Linked DNA regions of Homo sapiens: regions 2, 3 and 4 are each linked to region 1. The links come from fine-mapping of genetic effects on gene expression. A gene starts in region 1. Each other region holds a variant in brackets. All regions are shown on one strand. Distances are from middle to middle.

Region 1 (5,172 bases):
CTCAGATGATCCACCCACCTCAGCCACCCAAAGTGCTGGGATTACAGGCGTGAGCCACCTGGCCAGGCAATATATATTATTTTGTGTCTGGCTTCTTTCACTTATTAATAGCATCATGTTTTGGGAGGTTATCCATCTTGCAGCATTTATCTATCAGTCTGTCTATATATATTTTTTGCAACAAGGTCTCTCACTCTGTAGGCTGGAGTGCAGTGGTGTGATCATAGTTCCCTGCAGCCTCTACCTTCTGGCTCAAGCGATTCTCCTACCTCAGCCTCCCCAGTAGCTGGGACTAGAGGTGCTCACCACCACACCTGGCTAACTTTTCGTAGTTAGGGGGTCTAGCTATGTTGCCCAGGCTGCTCTGGAACTCCTTGTCTCAAGAAATCCTCCTGCCTCTGCTCCCCAAAGTGCTGAGATCAAGCCTGGCCTCCTTTTTATTTTTATATTTTTGAGACAGAGTCTTGCCCTGTCTTCCAGGCTGGAGTGCAGTGGCACGATCTTGGCTCACTGCAAGCTCTGCCTTCTGGGTTCACGCCATTCTCCTGCCTCAGCCTCCCTAGTAGCTGGGACTACAGGCGCCCACCACCACGCCCGGCTAATTTTTTTTGTATTTTTAGTAGAGACGGGGTTTCACCCTGTTAGCCAGGATGGTCTCGATCTCCTGACATCGTGATCTGCCCGCCTCGGCCTCCCAAAGTGCTGGGATTACAGGCGTGAGCCACCGTGCCCGGCCAGCCTCCTTTTTAAGTAGTTTTCCATTGCACAAATGTAGCACATTTTATTCATCCACTCATCAGTCTCTAGTTAATGCATCTGTTGTATATGTTCAGATTGGCTGGGGTTCAATACCCACTGGACAACTTCCTAGATGAGTGACTTTTGGTAAATCATAATCTCTCCAAGTCTGCCTCAGTTTCTTCAATTATAAAATGTCAATAATAATGCAATGTACCTCATAGAGAGTCATGGTTGTATTGCCACAGTAATTAATAAAGTGCCAGGAACTTTATAAGGATTATTTAACACCCTTATTATTTACAAAGTAGGCAACAGAGGCTATTGTGGTGGTTCACACCTGTAATCCCAGCACTTTGGGAGTTGGAGGTGGGAGGATCACTTGAGGCGAGGAGTTCAAGACCAGCCTGGGCAACACAGTGAGACCCCCATCTCTACAAAAAAATTAAAAAATTTTGTAGCTGACTCTTTGGACAATAAAGAATTTTATTTTAGAAAATTAGCCAGGTGGCTGGGTGCAGTGGCTCACGCCTGTAATCCCAACACTTTGGGAGGCTGATGAGGGTGGATCACAAGGTCAGGAGTTCAAGACCAGCTTGGCCAAGATGGTGAAACCCCGTCTCTACTAAAAAAATACAAAAATTAGCTGGGCATTATGGCGGGCACCTGTAATCCTAGCTACTGGGGAGGCTGAGGCAGGGAACTGCTTGAATCCAGGAGGCAGAGGTTGCAATGAGCCGAGATCACGACACTGCACTCCAGCCTGGGCAACAGAGTGAGACTGATCTCAAAAAAAAAAAAAAAGAAAAAGAAAAAGAAAAAAAGAAAATTAGCCAGGTGTAGCGGAGCGCACCTGTGGTCCCAGCTACTCTGGCAGGCTGGGGTGGGAGGATTGCTTGAGCCCAGGAGTTCAAGGCTGCAGTGAGCTCTGATTGCACCACTGCATTCCAGCCTGGGCGACAGAGCAAGACCCTGTCTCTTAAAAAATAAATAAATAAACTGCAATGTTTCTGGCAGCCCAGATGCCACCAGCCTCACTACTCTCTGAGAGGTGGGATTTTAACATGCAAAGGCCCACTAACCCGATCACGTCTCACAACTTCAGCTGATTAATACTTTGTTAAAACCTAGACCACGAAAACAGACAGAGCCCGGCGAGGTGGCTCACGCCTGTAATCCCAACACTTTGGGAGGCCGAAGCGGGTGGATCACGAGGTCAGGAGTTCAAGACTAGCCTGGCCAAGATGATGAAACCCCGTCTCTACTAAAAAATACACAAATTAGCTAGGCGTTATGGCGGGCGCCTGTAATCCCAGCTACTCGGGAGGCTGAGGCAGGGAATTGCTTGAACCTGGGAGGCAGAGATTGCAGTGAGCCGAGATCGTGCCACTGCACTCCAGCCTGGGTGACAGAGCGAGACTCTGTCTCAAAAAAGAAAAAAAGAGGCTGGGCACGGTGCCTCACGCCTGTAATCCCAGGACTTTGGGAGGCCGAGGCGGGCGGATCACGAGGTCAGGAGATTGAAACCATCCTGGCTAACACGGTGAAACCCCGTCTCTACTAAAAACACAAAAAATTAGCCGGGCTTGGTGGCAAGCGCCTGTAGTCCCAGCTACTTGGGAGGCTGAGGCAGAAGGAGAATCGCTTGAACCCAGGAGGCGGAGGTTGCAGTAAGCCGAGATCCAGCCTGGGCGACAGAGCGAGACTCCGTCTCAAAAAAAAAAAAAGGTTAAAGAAAAAAAGAAAAGAAAACACAAGATAATCCTGTCCGCAAACGCTTAGCAGTCTTAAATCGGCCTGGTGGAAGGATGCAGGGACACTCCCCCACCCTGCCCCCCGAAAAAGGGGAACGCGCAGCGCGAGGTTCCGGGTCCGCCAAGCTCCCGGCATGCAGCGCGGCGATCCCGGCGAGCACCTTGGCGCGCGGAGCTGGCACCTTGGCGCTGTTGGTGGCGGCGGAGACAGCTGTGAAGTGTGAGGTTCTTTGTCTGCTGGCAGCTAGGGGCGACGAGGCGGGACGTCATGGAAGTGTAAGTCTTCTCGGGCGCGTCCCTTTTCGCCCGAGGAGCCCAACGGTTTGACCGCTGAGAGCTGAGAGCCGAGAGCCGTGGGGACTGGGCGACCCTCGTACGGGAGTGAGGGCAGCGGGCCGGCCCTGTCCGGGAGGGCCGCGGGGTGGTGACGGGGACGAACGGGACTCTCGCTTTGCCCTTCCGAACCTTCGCTTCCCCTCCACGCCGTGTCTGGTGCGGGGCCGAGCACTTCCGTGTCCGGCTGCCTTTCAATGTGCCCCCTCCTTCTCTCATTCGTTTACCAGCGTTTCTGGGTCACAGTGCGGGGGTGGAGCCCAGTCTGGTATCCGACCCCGGACTTAGAAGGCTATAAAGGCCTGAGTCTGTCCGCCCTGAAAGTAGGTGGAGGAGAGACGAATCAGGGCCGGGTAGAGCTCTGCTTGCAGCTGTAGGCCCCTGGAGAGCCCTCGGAAGAGCTGCCCTCGGAATTTGATGGGAGCAGTAAACACTGTGAGGGAAGGGGCTGGTTTTGGGGTGGAGAAGGGAAGGACGTGAACCAGGACTGGGACCAGAGAAACAGCAGGGGGTGTGTGGGTGTGTGTGCAAGGCGAGGGTAAAAGATTTTCTGACAGTTTAACTCCACGTGGTCTTTTCCATGCTTGCTCGTTGCGCCTGGTGCAAATGGAAGATTTTGCATCTACTCTGAATGTGGGCTTTATACGGTTGATATTAATTTGTAGGTATTACTATCTTGTGTTCTCTTTGAACTGATTATTTGATACAGTTTCCTTTATGTTCTTTTGCCTCATGTTTAATGGTTATATGTACTATGGCATTTCACATTTTTACATTTTTAATTAATTGTTTTTTCTTAAGAAACAGGGTCTTGCTCTGTCCCCCAGGCGGGGTGTAATCATGGTTCACTGCAGCCTCACTTTCTGGACTCAAGCAATCCTGCTTCAGCCTCTTCAGTAGCTGGGACTACAGGCCCACGCCATCACTCACCGCTAATTTTTTAAAAAAAGTTTTGTAGATGCAGGGTCTCACTACAGCCCAGGCTGGTCTCCAGCTCCTGAGCTCAAGTGATCCTCCTGCTTTGTACTCCCAAAGTCCTGGGATTGCAGGCGTGAGCCACTTCACCTGGCCTCTTCCGATTTTTTTTTAAACACAATATGTCTGTGTAACTGAAATGAAAGGCTCATGAAACAATAATGTGTGGCGTACACTCTCATATTGTCTATTTTTTATTAATATGAATGGGGCCAACCGTGGTGGCTCACACCAGCAATCCCAGCACTTTGGGAAGCTTAGGCAGAAGGATCACTTGAACCTGGGAGGTGGAGACCAGCCTGGGCAACATAGGGAGACCCTGTCTCTGCAAAAAATTAAGAAGTTAGCTGGGTGTGGTGGTTCATGCCTGTAGTCTCAGCTACTTACGAGGCTGAGATGGGAGGATCACTTGATCCCAGGAGGCTGCAATGAGCTGAGATAGAGCCACTACACTCCTGCCAGAGTGACAGTGTAAGGCTCTGTCTTAAAAAAAAAAAAAAAAAAAAATTGAACCACTGAATTAATTTTGCAACCCACTGATGGGATTTCATCTGCAACCTAAAAAACTATTCATATAATTTACTCTAGTCCAAGCCATCATTACTAATTTTTCCCTCTTTACTAGAGCATTTCCTGTGAGCATACAACCCTGCTTTAGAGAATTCATCTTAGAAAATCCTCCGTCCCCACATACATGTCCCCCTCTTACTCCATTTCTGCTTCCCATCCCAACAAAACTTCTTGAAAGTGCTGATTAGCCCCTCATTCTCTCAGCCATTCTGTTGGGCTTTCATCCTCACTGGTCTACGGGAATGACTGTTAAGATTACCTGAACCAGCGGGGCGTGGTGGCTCATGCCTATAATCGCAGCACTTTAGGAGGCCGAAGTGGGCGAATCCCCTGAGGTCAGGAGTTTGAGACCAGCCTGGCCAACATGGCATAACCTCCTCTCTACTAAAAATACAAAAATTAACTGGGTGTAGTGGTGGGCGCCTGTAATCCCAGTAACTCAGGAGGCTGAGGCAGGAGAATCGCTTGAACTCGGGAGGCAGGGGTTGCAGTGAACCAAATTGTGCCACTGCACTCCAGCCTAGGTGACAGGGCAAGACTGTCTCAAAAAAAAAAAAAAAAAAAACCTGATCCCTCCATCTTGTCAAATTCAGAGGTTGATTTTCTGGCCTCAACTTTCTTGATCTCTCAGCAGTGGTTAATACAGAAACTCTAGAAACTTTCCTTTTCTTGTGATGTATGTTCCTTTGCGTATTTCCTCCTACATCAAGGACTACTTCAGTGTCCTTCCCTGGGTCCCGTTCCTCTCTTGCTTGATGTCTAAGTGTTGAGTGGTATCTTAGGGCTCAGTCCTGGGACCCTT
Region 2 (5,172 bases), 270 kb after region 1:
TGCATGGTTCACAATGGGGTGCATGCTCCTATGAGAATCTAATGCTGCTGCTGATCTGAGAGAAGGCAGAGCTCAGGCAGGAATGTGAGCAATGGGGAGTGGCTGTAAACACAGATGAAGCTTCCCTCATTCAACACCATTCACCTCCGGCTGTGTGGCTCCTTACAGTTCCATGGCTCTGGCGTTGGGGACCCTGCCCAAGTACATCCAGAAGGACCCTTCCACACCAGTCTTCATAGTGGTCAAGTGCAGCAGCCACTTAGCTCCCAAGGCATATGCCACAGCTGGCATTTCATCACAATCAACACTAAGTGGTAGCTTGAGTCATTGTGAGGTCACTTCCTGGAAATCAACAGCATCCCATTTCCCATTGCAAGGAGCTCAGCACGGCCCCTAAGATAACCAAACTGATCCCCAAATCCCATCTGTGTGGGTCTGTCTCCTGGGACCCTTCCCAGCATCAACTCTGTATTAGTCAGGGTCCAATCAGGAGACATAAACCACTCAAAAGCCCAAAGTGCTAAAATTTAATATAGATAATTATTCATTATAACAGGGGAACAGCATGAGAGATTGGCTAGCACAAAGTAAAGAGAATTCTAGAGAATATAGGACTAGCCAAAGTAAGGCATGGTGGCTCATGCCAGTAATTTAAGAAGCCAATGCAGGAGGATTGCTTGAGGCCAGGAGGTAGAGACCAGCCTGGGCAACACCCTGTCTCTATCCAAAAAAAGAAAAAAATTAGCTGCGTGTGGTGGTGCATACTCATAATCCCAGCTACTCGGGAAGCTGAAGTAGGAGGGTAGTTTGAGCCTGTGAGGTCAAGGCTACAGTGAGTCATGATTATGGCACTATAGTCAAGCCTGGGTGACAAAGCAAGACCCTGTCTCAAAGAACAAAACAACTATTTACACACAGAAAAGAAATAGGGCTAATAATGTATAAGATGTTGAAATGTGACAAATAAAGTAATAATAAAATCATAAAACAAAAAATAACTTATTAAATTATAATACCCTGTGCTGGCAAAGATGCAGTGAAATGGGCACTTTCTTATACAATGAGGGGTGTTTAAATTGTATGTAAGCCTTTCACGGTAAAGCTTCCAATTGTTTATTTATTTATTTATTTTTTTTTGAGATGGAGTTTCACTCTTGTTGCCCAGGCTGGAGTGCAATGGTGCGATGTCGGCTCACCACAACCTCCACCTCCTGGGTTCAAGTGATTCTCCTGCCTCAGCCTCTGAGTAGCTGGGATCACATGTGTGTGCCACCACACCCAGCTAATTTTGTATTTTTAGTAGAGACAGGGTTTCTCCATGTTGGTCAGGCTGGTTATCGCAAGCCAGAACTCAGGTGATCCACCCACCTCAGCCTCCCAAAGTGTTGGGATTACAGGCGTGAGCCACCACACCTGACCAGCAATTTTTTTAATAATAGAGACACTGTCTCACCCTACTGTCTCCTCCAAATCCTGGGGTCAAGCAATCCTCCTGCCTTGGCCTCCCAAAGTGCTGGGATTATACCTGCGAGGCACCCAAAACCTTGTCAATTTACATCAAGGACAATGAGAATGTCCATTCACCATGACTCACTGTAATCTTTCTTCTGGAAATACCTTGCAAGACAACTGAACCTAAACAAAAGGTCATCTGCACAAACACAGTGAAAATCTGGTAGTAACTGAAGACAGAGTGGTTAAGTGAAATAAGAAACAGTTATAAGAAATTAAACTATCTGGCCGGGCGCGGTGGCTCACGCTTGTAATCCCAGCACTTTGGGAGGCCGAGGCGGGTGGATCACGAGGTCAGGAGATCGAGACCACGGTGAAACCCCGTCCCTACTAAAAATAAAAAAAAATTAGCCGGGCGTGGTGGCGGGCGCCTGTAGTCCCAGCTACTCGGAGAGGCTGAGGCAGGAGAATGGCGTGAACCCGGGAGGCGGAGCTTGCAGTGAGCCGAGACTGCGCCACTGCACTCCAGCCTGGGTGACAGAGCGAGACTCCGTCTCAAAAAAAAAAAAAAAAAAAGAAATTAAACTATCTATGGTATTTATAGGCACCTGGTAGAAGGACAGTTAATGTTAGCTGCTACTTTTTTGTTGTTTTGAGATGGGGTCACTCTGTCACTCAGGCTGGAGTGCAGAGGCCTGATCATGACTCACTGCAGTCTAAGCCTCCCTGGGCTCAAGTGATCCTCCCACCTCAGCCTCCCAAGTAGCTGGGACTACAAGAACATGCCACCACACTAGGCTAATTCATGTATATTTCTGTAGGGATGGTGATTCCCTTGATTTCTGAGACCTGTCTCAAACTCTTGGCCTTGAGCCATCCTCCTGCTTCAACCTCCCAAAGTGTTGTGATTACCGGTGTGAGCCACCACACCTGGTCAGCTGCTTTTATATTATACCACTAAATTCAAAATTATTTGTCATTAAAAATTACTATTTTCAAGGCTATGGAACAATATGTGTCGTACAGCATAAGTGTAAAAACATATATGGTCGTCCGTCAGTATACAGAAAGGATTCGTTCCAGCCCCCCATCTCTGCATATACCAAAATCCATGCATACTCACGTTTCGCAGTCAGCCCTTTGGAACCCATGTATAGGAAAAGTCCAAATTATTAGTTGGGCATTGTGGCAAGCACGTACAGTCTCAGCCACCTGGGAGGCTGAGGTGGGAGGACTGCTTGAGCCTGAGAGGTTGAGGATGCAGTCAGCTGTGATAGCACTACCGCACTCCAGCCTGGACAACAGAGCAAGACCCTGTCTCAGGAAAAAAAAAAAAAAAAAAAAAAAAGGTTAGAAATTGTAATGATGTCTGTTGGGCAAAATTCCATGTAAGCAAAGTATAAATTAATGGAGCAATTGGTGATAAATCACTACGATTGACTTTCTGGAGTTTCTGACAATAAGGGTAAGAAAAATGCAAAACAAAGAGACAGAGGGTAAAAAAACAAATT[A/G]GGGAAGGATTCTACATGTTTAATAGGATGACACTGGCCATGTTCGTGCAGCAGCAGTATGTCACAATATGACATACCTTGGAGAGAAGTTAGCAGATGAGGAAGTTGACAAAAATGATGAGAGATGCAAAATACTGATAGCGATAGTCAAGTAAACCATGAAGAATTTCCATAACTGACATCAGCAAAGTGGGAATATTGTACAGTGTGTGTTGAAGTTCCTGTACAACAGTGTTTATTTGCCTTCTGTTTGTTTGTAAGGAATGTATTTACTAAAAGTTCTTCTTGCTGTCAAAAGAATATGTGTAAGTCATTAGAATTTATTCTTCTGTTTTTCTTTTTTAGAGATAGAGTCTTGCCCTGTCACCCAGGCTGGAGTGCAATGGCACGATCTCAGCTCACTGCAACCTCCACCTCCCAGGTTCTAGCGATTCTCCTGCCTCAGCCTCCCGAGTAGCTGGGATTACAGGCACGTGCCACCACGCCTGGCTAAATTTTTTTGTATCTTTAGTCGAGACGGGGTTTCAACATGTTGGCCAGGCTGGTCTCGAACTCTGACCTCGCGATCCACCCACCTCGGCCTCCCAAAGTGCTGGGATTACAGGCGTGAGCCACCGCGCCCGGCCTATTATTCTGTTTTTCTACTTTATCTTCTGGCCATCATCCCACAGCCTTAATTTGGAAATTTGTTTTTTAGAAAATCGAACAAGTGCTTGTTGTGGTGGCTCATACCTCTAGGATGGGAGGCAGGGGTAGAAGGGTCACTTGAGGCCAGGAGTTTGACACCAGCCTGGCCAACAAAGTGAGACCCCATGTCTACAAAACAATTTAAAGAATAGCCAGGTGTCATCATATATAACTACAGTCCCAGCTACTCAGGAGGCTGAGGCAGGAGGAGCCTTAGCCTAGGAGTTCAAGGCTACAGTGAGCTGTGATTGCACCACTGTACTCCAGCCTGGGTTGCAGAGGAGACCCCATCTTCTAAAACAAAACAAAACAAAAAAAGGAAAGAAAATAGGTAAAGTAGCAAGTTGTACGTGGCTTACTCTGAATATGTCTAAACTACATGTTCCCAATCTTTTTGGGTCTAGCATCCCTTTACATTTTTTAACTCTATTGAAGATCTCTTAAGCCTTTTTCTTTATATAAATAATTATATTAAAATTAGAAAATAAGACAAATTTTAAAATATTATTCATTACATATTAATAATAAAACCATTTCATGTTGATATAGTACAGGACAAATTTTTAAAATATACATTCATTACACATGAATAATAAAACCATTACAAGTTGACGTAAGTAGTACTTTTTTTTGGGGGGGAAACAAAGTCTGACTTACGCACGCTGGAGTGAAGTGGCACGATCTTGACTCACTGCAACCTCCGCCACCTGGGTTCAAGCAATTCTCCTGGCTCAGCTTCCCAAGTAGCTGGCATTACAGGTGCCCACCAACATGGCTGGCTAATTTTTATGTTTTTTTAGTAGAGATGTGGTTTAGCCATGTTGGCCAGGCTGGTCTCGAAATCCTGACCTCAGGTGATCACCTGACCTCAGGTGATCACCTCGGTCACCCAAAGTGCTGGGATTACAGGCGTAAGCCATTGTGCCCACACTGATTAATATATATAATTATATATATTACATATATTAATATATATTTACATATACATTAATGTTTACATACATATTAATATATATTTGCATGTATATTTATATATTAATATATTTACATATATTTTTATACATTATATATATTTACATATATATTTATTTATATATATATATATTTTTTGAGACAGAGTCTCGCTCTGTTCCCCAGGCTGGAGTGCAGTGGCACAATCTCGGCTCACTGCAAGCTCCATCTCCCAGGTTCATACCATTCTCCTGCCTCAGCCTCCCCAGCAGCTGGGACTACAGGTGCCCACTGCCACGCCCGGTTGATTTTTTTGTATTTTTAGTAGAGATAGGGTTTCACCGTGTTAGCCAGGATGGTCTAGATCTCCTGACCTCGTGATCCGCCCGCCTCGGCCTCCCAACAGATTCATATATTTTTTAAAACACTGATTAGTCAGGCAGCAATACTGGGCAGGGGTCTCTTCATTCCCAGCAATGCAAATCCCACTGCACGGCTCCGGGGTTGCAAGGGCTACAAAGCCTAAAGGCTCTAACTTATGATTTCATTACTTAATTTGTATTGTGACACG
Region 3 (5,172 bases), 320 kb after region 1:
AGGGAGATGGATAGGTGAGGTCACCACATTCCTTGTCTTTCTGACACCACAGAGCAGCTTCCACTCTAAGGAAGCAGAAACATGAGCTGTTGCTTTCTCTTAAGGTTTGAAACTCAGATGCCTTATTTTCCCCCAATATGTTCTTCCATCAGTAGGTAGTAAGCATAAAGCAAAACAAAATAAGCAACTACCTGATCCTCTTTTGAATGGCAAGATCTTTCATCTCATCATCAGTAGTTTCTGGACAGAACACATATTTATAGAGATGAGTCATGATGTACTTTTCAATCTGATCCATTTATCTTCTCAACTCATTCTGGAGGCACTGAAATAGCCAAACAGAAAAGCTCAAGAGAGTATATATACTCCTTGTACTGATAGTAAGTAAGCCACTCCTTGTACTGGCAGTAAGCATAAAAGTACTCACAGATTATATTAATCCTTCAGGAGAGTAAAACCCATCCATTAACATTATTTCCAGTATCCACTGTTGCAGGATTTTTCCTTAGTTCAGCTAAGGACGGGGTCCTTGTCCGTCTCAAGGCCACAAAAATTTAGGCTTACAGACGGTTTGAATGGTGAGTAAGGCAGGGTTTTATTGGGACTCTCACAAGGCCAGAGTCCCTGCTAGAGTGCTTTCTGCCAGCAGCTAGAATAATGGGTTTTACACAGTAAGAAGAGGTGCCAGGCTCCTCCCCGCTATCAACGGTGCAAACTTCAAGTTCCACCCCAGTGCACAGGCCAGCTGGAGTTTTTCTGGGGACCCCTTCCTACCTAGTGGTGTCTCACCATGACCATCTCATTCTTTTTGCTATATCTACATACTCTTAAATAGATTTAATGCATGTTTTGATAATTTACATATTTTATGGACACTTCTATTTATCTAACCCACCAAACATTTTTGGTGGCTTTATAGCATTGCATTATATTAACTGACTTATTCAACTCTCCTCTACCGCTGTGCATTTGGGTTGCTTCCCCTCTTTCATTGTTGTGCACTGTAGCAATAAATAATTTTGTAAGGACTATCTTCTTCTGAGTTAAATTCTCTGTGATACATTTCCAAAAGTGGCATTAACCACTTAATAAGAATAAACACCGTTACAGCACTAAGTATCTATTGCTAGCCACACTCCTCGGAAACTCAGTGCACACTGTCATTAACCACGTGTATGCGCTTATTTCCCTATGGCCCTTACAACAGTGGGCTTGATAATTTGTATTTGGTTTTACTGATTTTATACATAGAATATATGCATTTATTCCTCACTTTCTGCCAAAGAATATTTAAAGTCTATTTAAAAGATAAATGCAGTTCAGCACAACGGACTAGAAAATAAAAAGAGTAACAAATAACTGTAATCCCAGTGCTCTGGGAGGCTGCAGCTAGAGGATCGATTGAGCCTAGGAGTTTGAGACCAGCCTGGGCAACATAGTGAGAACCCATCTCAAGAAAGAAAAGAAAAGAAAAGGAAAAGAAAAGAAAAGAAAGATAATTTTAAAAATTTTTTTAAAATTTTAGGCCGGGCTTGGTGGCTCACGTCTGTAATCCCAACACTTTGGGAGGCCAAGGTGGGCAGATCACAAGGTCAGGAGATGGAGACCATCCTGGCCAACATGGTGAAACTCAGTCTATACGAAAAATACAAAAACAAAAGTATCCGGGTGTGGTGGCGGGCACCTGTAGTCCCAGCTACTCAGGGGGCTGAGGTGGGAGAATGGTGTAAACCTGGGAGGCGGAGCTTGCAGTGAGCCGAGATTGCACCACTGCACTCCAGCCTGGGCAACACAGAGAGACTCCATCTCAAAAAAAAAAAAAAAAAAAAAAATCACACATGGAGAGAGACCTAAATGACAAGACAGAAATGTTTTCCTGGAAGATGTCTAAATTAGTCAAGAGTCAGCCCATACATCTGTCTCTAACTAAACTTCTTAGCAATCATCATTAAGATGAAAACAGTTACGTAATTCAGGGTTCAAAAGATGAAAGCATGGTGTTTTTTAATTGGAGCATTTAGTCCATTTACATTTAAAGTTAATATTGTTATGTGTGAATTTGATCCTGTCATTATGATGTTAGCTGGTTATTTTGCTCGTTAGTTGATGCAGTTTGATGAGTTCATGTCCTTTGTAGGGACATGGATGAAATTGGAAATCATCATTCTCAGTAAACTATCGCAAGAACAAAAAACCAAACACTGCATATTCTCACTCATAGGTGGGAATTGAACAATGAGATCACATGGACACAGGAAGGGGAACATCACACTCTGGGGACTGTTGTGGGGTGGGGGGAGGGGGGAGGGATAGCATTGGGAGATATACCTAATGCTAGATGACAAGTTAGTGGGTGCAGCGCACCAGCATGGCACATGTATACATATGTAACTAACCTGCACAATGTGCACATGTACCCTAAAACTTAAAGTATAATAATAAAAGAAAAAAAAACTTAAAAAAAAAAAAGATGAAAGCAAACAAATTCTTCAGGTGAAATTCTGACACCAAAATCAAAAATTTCTCCCAATGGTTCTCACAAGGATGTCACAGTAGAAGAACATGAATAAGGCTGAGAACAAACCCCCAGGACTGGCTGTCACAGACCTCATCTACACAGGCCACTGACCTCACACGCCAAGCACCGATACATCCTGTGGAAGCCTGCAGCAGTCGACCATCTGGCTTAACTCTAAAAGGAAGGCAGGACACTGGGGGTCAGGGGCAGTCACCTCATTCCCTCAGTGAAAATGGCCAAGCACTCAAGCACACATGTGATCATGGTGATCACAAGTCATGGGATCACCTTGACTGCAGCCCTAATCACTGTCAACTAGTTACCCATATACATGCCATTTGGTTGAATTAAAATTGATCCCTCA[A/T]CTATAAAAGCCTAGGTGCTACCTTTAGTAAAGTTTAGATATTTCACTATATGAAGCTCTTATTTATATTCATGACTTCCCATGTTTTATTTTTTATTGCACAGATTTTTAAAAAGTTAATACTATTAAGCCTTTTATCTGGTCATTAAAAACAATTCTTTTGGCTGGGTGCAGTGGCTCACGCCTGTAATCCCAGCACTTTGGGAGGCCGAGGCGGACGGATCACCTTAGGTCAGGAGTTCAAGACCAGCCTGGCCAACATGGCAAAACCCGTCTCTACTAAAAATACAAAAATTAGCTGGGCATGCTACTGCACACCTGTAATCCAGATACTTGGGAGGCTGAGGCAGGAGAATTGCTTGAACCCGGGAGGTGGAGGTTGCAGTCAGCCAAGATCATGCCATTGCACTCCAGCCTGGGCGGCAGAGCAACACTCTGTCTCAAAAACAAACAAATTTCTTGTAAGTTTTTAATTTTATTTCTCTTTTTTTTTTTTTTTAATATATAGAAACAAGGTCTCACTATGTTGCCCAGTCTCGTCTCAAACTCCTGGGCTTAAGTGATCCTCCTGCCTTGACCTCTAAAAGTGCTAGGATTACAGGTGTGAGCCACCGTGCCCAGGTAAAACAATTTTTTGATGGTTCAATTTTTGCTCCTCTCTACAGCTGAAATACGTATCCTAAGGTACCGTTCATATATTTTTTTCTTTTTTTTTTTTCCCCGAGATGGAGTCTCGCTCTCTCACACAGGCTGCAGTGGTGTGATCTCATTGTAACCTCTGCCTCCCTGGTTCAAGCGATTCTCCTGCCTCAGCCTCCCAAGTAGCTGGAATTACAAGCATGAACCACCACGCCCAAGCTAATATTTTATTTTTTTATTTTTTTGAGACAGTCTTGCTCTCTTGCTCAGGCTGGAGTGCAATGGTGTGATCTTGGCTCAGTGCAACCTCCACCTCCGGGTTCAAGTGATTCTCCTGCCTCAGCCTCCTGAGTAGCTAGGATTACAGGCACCTGCTACAACGCTCAGATAATTTTTGTATTTTTAGTAGTGATGGAGTTTCCCCATGTTGACCAGGCTGGTCTCAAACTCCAGTTTTTGTATTTTTAGTAGTGATGGAGTTTCCCCATGTTGACCAGGCTGGTCTGAAACTCCTAGCCTCTACTCATCTGGCTGCCTTGGCCTCCCAAAGTGATGGGATTATAGGCATGAGCCACCATACCCAGCTCATATCCTAATCTACTTTCTTCTCAATTTTTTCATGTTTAGCTCTTTGATTTGGCTGGAATGTAAGGTGCATGGTATGAAACAGAACTAAAACTCTATACAAGTGTATCTGTCATCACCATCAGCAGTTAGTAAAGCACAACCTTGTTCCCCCTCGTCCTCCAGGTGTCATGTAACTTGCTCCTGAGAAATTAAATCTATTTCTGAAATCTCTGGCTGATTTCACTGTTCCGTATTTTCATTTTTTACCCAAATCTCATCTAGGTGTGATGACTTTCATTTTAGAATATATTAAAAACTCTGCTGGATTTGGAAACATCCCCGCTTCACAAATTCTTGCTTTTTACCCCCTCACACAAAAAAAAAACATATGGTATATTTGTTTCCCTCTTTTTCTATAATAAATAATGTAACACAGTGATTCAAATGATATTTTAAGTGTTTATACTGACCTGCAAAGTATTTTTTTTTTTTTGAGACGGAGTCTCACTCTGTTGCCCAGGCTGGAGTGCGGTGGTGCAAACTTGGCTCACTGAAACCTCCGCCTCCCAGGTTAAAGCAATTCCCCTGCCTCAGTCTCCGAGTAGCTGGGACTACAGGCGTACGCCACCACGCCTGGCTAATTTTTGTATTTTTAGTAGACACAGAGTTTCGCCATGTGGGCCAGGCTGGTCTGTAACTCTTGACCTCAAGTGATCCACCTGCCTCAGCCTCCCAAAGCACTGGGAGTGTGATGACTAGGTTTTCACACTGGGTTTTCATGTGTGAGATATGCCTTGCTCAAACCTTGTTACAGCACTGGCACATTGCCTGTCGGATGTGAAGAAAGACAAAAAAAAGACCCTCATGCACATAACGGTGGAACTTGGCTCTGACAGGGTTCAGCTTGGTGGTGCTTGCTGAACACTTCCTGAATCTGACCTTCACTCATTGTGAGAGTTTCACAGAGGTTCTTCAGGTGATGGTTATTGTCTTTAATTTCTTCTTCTGGAACACACTGTGTTGCCTTCTCCAAAACATCTGCAACCTCTAACGAGTCCTTGCAGAAGCCCTGAATGCTACACAT
Region 4 (5,163 bases), 160 kb before region 1:
TCCTCTCCTTAAATTCATTACTTTCAAATGATGTTCAAAGCATTGACTATTTTCATTCAAAGAAACTACATTCGGCCGGGCACGGTGGCTCACGCCTATAATCCCAGCACTTTGGGAGGCCGAGGCGGGTGGATTACCTAAGGTCAGGAGTTCAAGACCAGCCTGGCCAGCATAGTGAAACCCCATCTCTACTAAAAATACAAAAATTAGCCAGGCGCAGTGGCACACCCCTGTAATCCCAGCTACTCGGGAGGCTGAGGGAGGAGAATTGCTTGAGCCCGGGAGACAGAGGTTGCAGTGAGTCAAGATCATGCCACTGCACTCCAGCCTGGCCAACAGAGCGAGACTGTCCCCCCCCCAAAAAAAAAAGAGAGAGACTGCATTCAAAGAGGACCAAGACTACAGTGAAATTAAAACTGTTTGCTGGCTGGGCATGGTGGCTCACACCTGTAATCCCAGCACTTTGGGAGGCCGAGGCGGTTGGATCACCTGAGGTCAGAAGTTCGAGATCAGCCTGACCGACATAGTGGAACCCTGTCTTTACTAAAAATACAAAAATTAGCTGGGCATGGTGGCGGCACCTGTAATGCCAGCTCCTCCAGAGGCTGAGGCAGGAGAATTGCTTGAACCCAGTAGGTGGAGGTTGCAGTGAGCCACAGTTGCGCCATTGCACTCCAGCCTGGGCAATGAGTGAAACTCTGTCTCAAATAAAAAAATAAAAATAAAAACTATTTGTTGACTTTTGTTTTTCATTTAGTTTTGGAAAAGACTATTTGCAAAAGTACAGAGTTATCTTCAGCAATTACTTCACAACTTAGATTGGTACCAAGAGTGACAGGAGATCTTGTCTTGGAAGATCATTATTAGATGCCAACAAGGAGACCCACTGTGATTTCTGGTAACCTATTTGGGGAAAAAGACCTAATGACCTAATATGCAATTTCTGTCCTCGTGTCTTTTTCTCTAACACACAGTCATGGGTGAAACATTTCAGACACCTCAGGCAGCACTTATGGTTTCTAATTGTGAGAACTACCCTTCCATCAAACAAAAAGGGCAAGGGTGGGAGCCCCGGCTACTTGGTTAAACATTTTTTACTACAAATTCGCCCAGAAAAGGTGAAATATTTTGTTATAAAACTGTATTAAGCATGGCCTAAGTATTTATTAGGTATATGATCTGTGTAGTATGTTCCATCAGAAATATTTCTTACTAGTGCTTTAAGCTCCAGAGTAAACAGTCATTTAAAATGGAGTTCACTGGGCAGGTTTCCCCTTTAATCTAGATAGAAATACTCTTTATCAGAGATTTAAGGCACTGTTTTGCTAACTGGTAAATAAAACCAAATGTAAATATGTAAGAATGTTTATTTGTTGCACATAACTTTTTTGGTATAAAATAAATGTAGAAGTTACCTGTGGAAGTTGTGCTCCCATTATTCTTAAACTGCAGGGTTGCATTCCAAAAGAACTGAAACGAAGTCTTTTTAGACTCAGTAGGAGCCTTATATTCTTGAAGTCAATACTGTAACCTCATTTCTAAGGTATACAGGGTTGATTCTTTTTCTCTTAAATCATATGTAACTTGCAGAAGATTCAGAGTCCTCAGACCTCTAGTTCTTGGAATTCCTGTAGGTTTACGGTGTATGTGATTGTCAAGAATTAATGACAAAAATGTGTCACTGCCTACAGTTCTGTGAACACTCAGAATGTATTAATGAGCTGTTTTTCCATAGTTTTACTTTAGCTTACCTTGAATACTCCCTGTATAATCCTCTAAAAAGGTAGCATCGGCAAGAAAGATGAATCCGTTGGAAATACAGCTGAGCCATACTTCACGGAATAGAACAAGTGTGTTCTGTGCTGGAGCTCAAGACCTGTGGAAAGGGACTGCCCCCACTGGGTGCAATGGCTCATGCCTGTAATCCCAGCACTTTGGGAGGTAGAGGCGGGTGGATCACTTGAGGTCAGGAGTTCAAGACCAGCCTGGCCAACATGGTGAAACCTGCCTCTACTGAAAAATACAGAAAAATTAGCCAGGATTGTGGTGTGCGCCTGTAATCCCAGCTATTCAGGAAGCTGAGGCAGGAGAATTGCTTGAACCAGGGAGGCGGAGGTTGCAGTGAGACGAGATCACGCCACTGCACTGCAGCCTAGGCGACAGAGGAAGACTCCAGCTCAAGAAAAAAAACAATGGACTGCCCCTAATTTGTAAACCATTTAAATGTGTCTATTACATTTAA[C/T]TTTTCTTAATGTTTGTCAACTAAAAGTTTTATTCATTATACTTTGACATACTGGAACACAAAACTTGATTCCTTTGAAAAACTAAAGAGAAGTTGATAAAAAAAATACAGAAGCTCTAGATTCCTAATTGGAACTGACTACACTCATTTTTAAAAAATGGACGATGCCTAATAAAACCACATGAAATTAACTTTATTCTTTCTTTCATGGAGCTTGCACAGGAAAGCTAAAAAGGAGGGTCTGTGTGGAGACACGGGGCTCAACCACAAGAGAGGGGAAAATCAAGTTCTATAGCAAGAACCATATTGGAGGCCGGGCACAGTGGCTCACGCCTATAATCCCAGCACCTGGGGAGGCTGAGGCGAGCAGATCACCTGAGGTCAAGAGTTCGAAACCAGCCTGGCCAACATGGTGAAACCCCATCTCTACTAAAAATATTTTTAAAAATTTAGCTGGGAATGGTGGCAGATGCCTGTAGTTCCACCTACTTGGGAGGATGAGGCAGGAGAATTGCTTGAACCCCAGAGGTGGAGGTTGCAGTGAGCCAAGATTGCGCCACTGCACTCCAGCCTGGGCGACGGAGCAAGACTGTCTCAAAACAAACAAAACAAACTGTATTGGTTCATTGTCTTTCAACTGACTGGACACCAAAAGGAGTATTTTTCCAAAGCGTATACTTCAAATCAGAATTGATGCACCATCCTTGCCTTACTGGAGCCCAGGAAGAGAGGGAGGACAGATTCCTTAAGGAAAGACTGTGCTCTGGGAGGGGGCAGGTAGCGTCATTTTGGGGTGTAAAGGCATGGAATGCTGATTTGTAGGCAAAGTTGTTTAAGGAGGTCCTGTCACATTCAGTGGCATCCGTTATGATAAAGCCAATAGGCTTTTACACTCATCTGTCCATTTCTGTCAAGACCCTATGGCTGAGGTCAAAACAATGTTCTGGGAGAACCAGTTACCTCTAACCTTCCAATTCAGACACTGCCAGCTTAACTATGTAGAAACTGGCACACAGACCCTGTTAAGTGCTGCAACAATGACAGCGTTTCTATGAATTTGTTGGTACATGTGGGACTTTAGCTCATCTGAGGAGTCGAACAGCAGCTGTGAAAGTCTTCTACTCACTCCCTGTCGAGGCTGGCCTGGTTTGCTACACAAACACGGTGGCCCTAGGACCATGGGGCTATTCCTGCAGACGCCCTCGGGAACCAGCTGCTCTGAACGTGGTGGGGGTGTTGGAGCAGCAGTTTCTCAAAAGTCCACACACAGTTAAAGCTCTGAAAACAGCACGACGCACAGAAATGATTTCAGATGCTTTTCAGTAGCCACTTTCATGCCAACTCTTTATTTCCATAATAGAAAATCTTTTATTTCCACCTTTAGTGTTCCCTGCTAGAATAGATGACCACAAAACCCAGGCCAGAAACGTTCTGGTCTGCCGTGAACAGTCCAGGAGGCACTTGTTCTGCTGCTGTGGAAGTCGCCCTGACTCGGGGAGGAAGGGACACGCAGGTGGTATCAGTCTTGCTCAAGTAAACAGGCTGTTTTCCAAACATTGTGACTTGGCTACTGAGTGGGGATACCTGGTTTCATTGGCAATCTTCCAGTATCTCTCTCGCAAAAGGAACGCTGCACTTTTTGGTTGTCTCTGCCGAGTGAAGATCCCCTTTTTATTCCCCAGCACTCTCGTCGGTGCTACAAAAAAAAAAAAAAGACACAAAGCGATTCAGATGTCTTCTGATGGGTCAAGTTAGAACCAGTCTGGAGCTAAGGTAGGCACTAAATAGAAATGTCTTTTTTTTTCTTTTTTCTCCCTGTTGCCCAGGCTGGAATGCGGTGACACAATCATAGCTCACTGCAGCCTCAACCTCCTGGGCTCAGGCAATCCTCCTGCCTCAGCCTCTCCAGCACCACCATGCCCGGTAATCTTTTATTTTTATTTTTTAGTAAAGACAAGGTCTCATTATGTTGTCCAGGCTGGTCTCAAACTACTGGGCTCAAGCAATCTGCCCTCCTTAGCCTCCCTAAAGTGCTGGGATTATAAGCACAAGCCACCATGCTCAGCCAAATGTCCTCTTACAGTTTCAGGATGCTTGCTCTGAAGTGACAATTTATGGGTTGAAATATTTAAATACCACTGCTCTGCCCAAACACCCAGGTTCCCTGGTGTGTTAATTTCTAGTTTTCTAGTCTGTTAGGGGAAAAAAACCCAAAACAGTGGCCAGGTGTGGTGGCCAACGCCTGTAATCCCAGTGCTTTGGGAGGCTGAGGCAGGTGGATCACCTGAGGTCAGGAGTTCAAGATCAGCCTGGCCAACATGAGGAAACCCGCCTCTATTAAAAATACAAAAACTGGCTGGGCACATTGGCTCATGCCTGTAATCCCAGCACTCTGGGAGGACAAAGCAGGCGGATCACAAGGTCAGGAGATTAAGACCAGCCTGGACAATATGGTGAAACCTCATCTCTACTAAAAATACAAAAATTATACAGGCATGGTGGTGGGTGCCTGTGGTCCCAGCTACTCAGGAGGCTGGGGCAGGAGAATCGCTTGAACCCAGGACGCAGAGGTTGCAGTGAGCTGAGATTGTGCCACTGCACTCCAGCCTGGGCGACAGAGTGAGACTCCATCTCCAAAAAAAAAAAAAGCACTAAAAGTTTATCTTTTATTTGCAAACTAAGGTTTACATGCTGGGTACCCAGCTGTCTGGTAACTGGGTAGGCAGAGGGCTAGGGGTATCTGGGACAGTTACCCTTGAAAAGCCTTGGGCCTTTCTGAAGAGATAGCGCCTAGTGGGAGCCAGGGTCCTGACCAGCCACAGGTCCCTGCGTGGGACCTACTCATGGAGTTCAAAGTCCGCCGGGGCTGACGTCCAGCTTGGCAGCACCCACCACTGGTGGTCATTAGGCCTGAGCTGAGC

Alleles and levels. Positions count from the first base shown, and alleles are read on the strand shown. Sizes are in standard deviations (SD) of each study's normalised expression. Not every link is listed here.
For the expression in esophagus mucosa of the gene that starts at base 2,645 in region 1, A is the low allele of the variant in region 3 and T is the other (large effect, 0.79 SD a copy in GTEx).

What was found. PIP is the estimated chance that this variant, and not a neighbour inherited with it, causes the effect.
Region 2: its variant is the best candidate, but not a certain one, in a credible set for the expression of CRCP in whole blood (INTERVAL, PIP 0.54).
Region 3: its variant is the best candidate, but not a certain one, in a credible set for the expression of CRCP in esophagus mucosa (GTEx, PIP 0.71).
Region 4: its variant is the best candidate, but not a certain one, in a credible set for the expression of CRCP in whole blood (INTERVAL, PIP 0.56).

The regions. Positions count from the first base shown.
Region 1 is chr7:66,112,203-66,117,374 of GRCh38, forward strand. CRCP (CGRP receptor component) reads left to right here and starts at 2,645. Exons shown (of 6, transcript NM_014478.5): 1 at 2,645-2,768. The coding sequence starts at 2,761. RefSeq lists silencers at 1,521-1,711, 3,140-3,434 and enhancers at 2,358-2,487, 3,025-3,553.
Region 2 is chr7:66,379,662-66,384,833 of GRCh38, forward strand. LINC00174 (long intergenic non-protein coding RNA 174) reads right to left here. Exons shown (of 5, transcript NR_026873.1): 4 at 2,576-2,770; 5 at 1-342. Among named protein-coding and RNA genes, the nearest start is that of LINC00174, 18 kb to the right of the region's middle. The variant A/G (reference allele first, on the strand shown) is at 2,964.
Region 3 is chr7:66,429,693-66,434,864 of GRCh38, forward strand. It overlaps the pseudogene RABGEF1P2, the pseudogene LOC124901855 and the pseudogene GRPEL1P1. Among named protein-coding and RNA genes, the nearest start is that of LINC00174, 32 kb to the left of the region's middle. The variant A/T (reference allele first, on the strand shown) is at 2,883.
Region 4 is chr7:65,957,126-65,962,288 of GRCh38, forward strand. It overlaps VKORC1L1 (vitamin K epoxide reductase complex subunit 1L1), which reads left to right. Exons shown (of 3, transcript NM_173517.6): 3 at 1-2,433. It overlaps GUSB (glucuronidase beta), which reads right to left. Exons shown (of 12, transcript NM_000181.4): 12 at 3,559-3,938. The coding sequence ends at 3,772. Among named protein-coding and RNA genes, the nearest start is that of GUSB, 23 kb to the right of the region's middle. The variant C/T (reference allele first, on the strand shown) is at 2,243.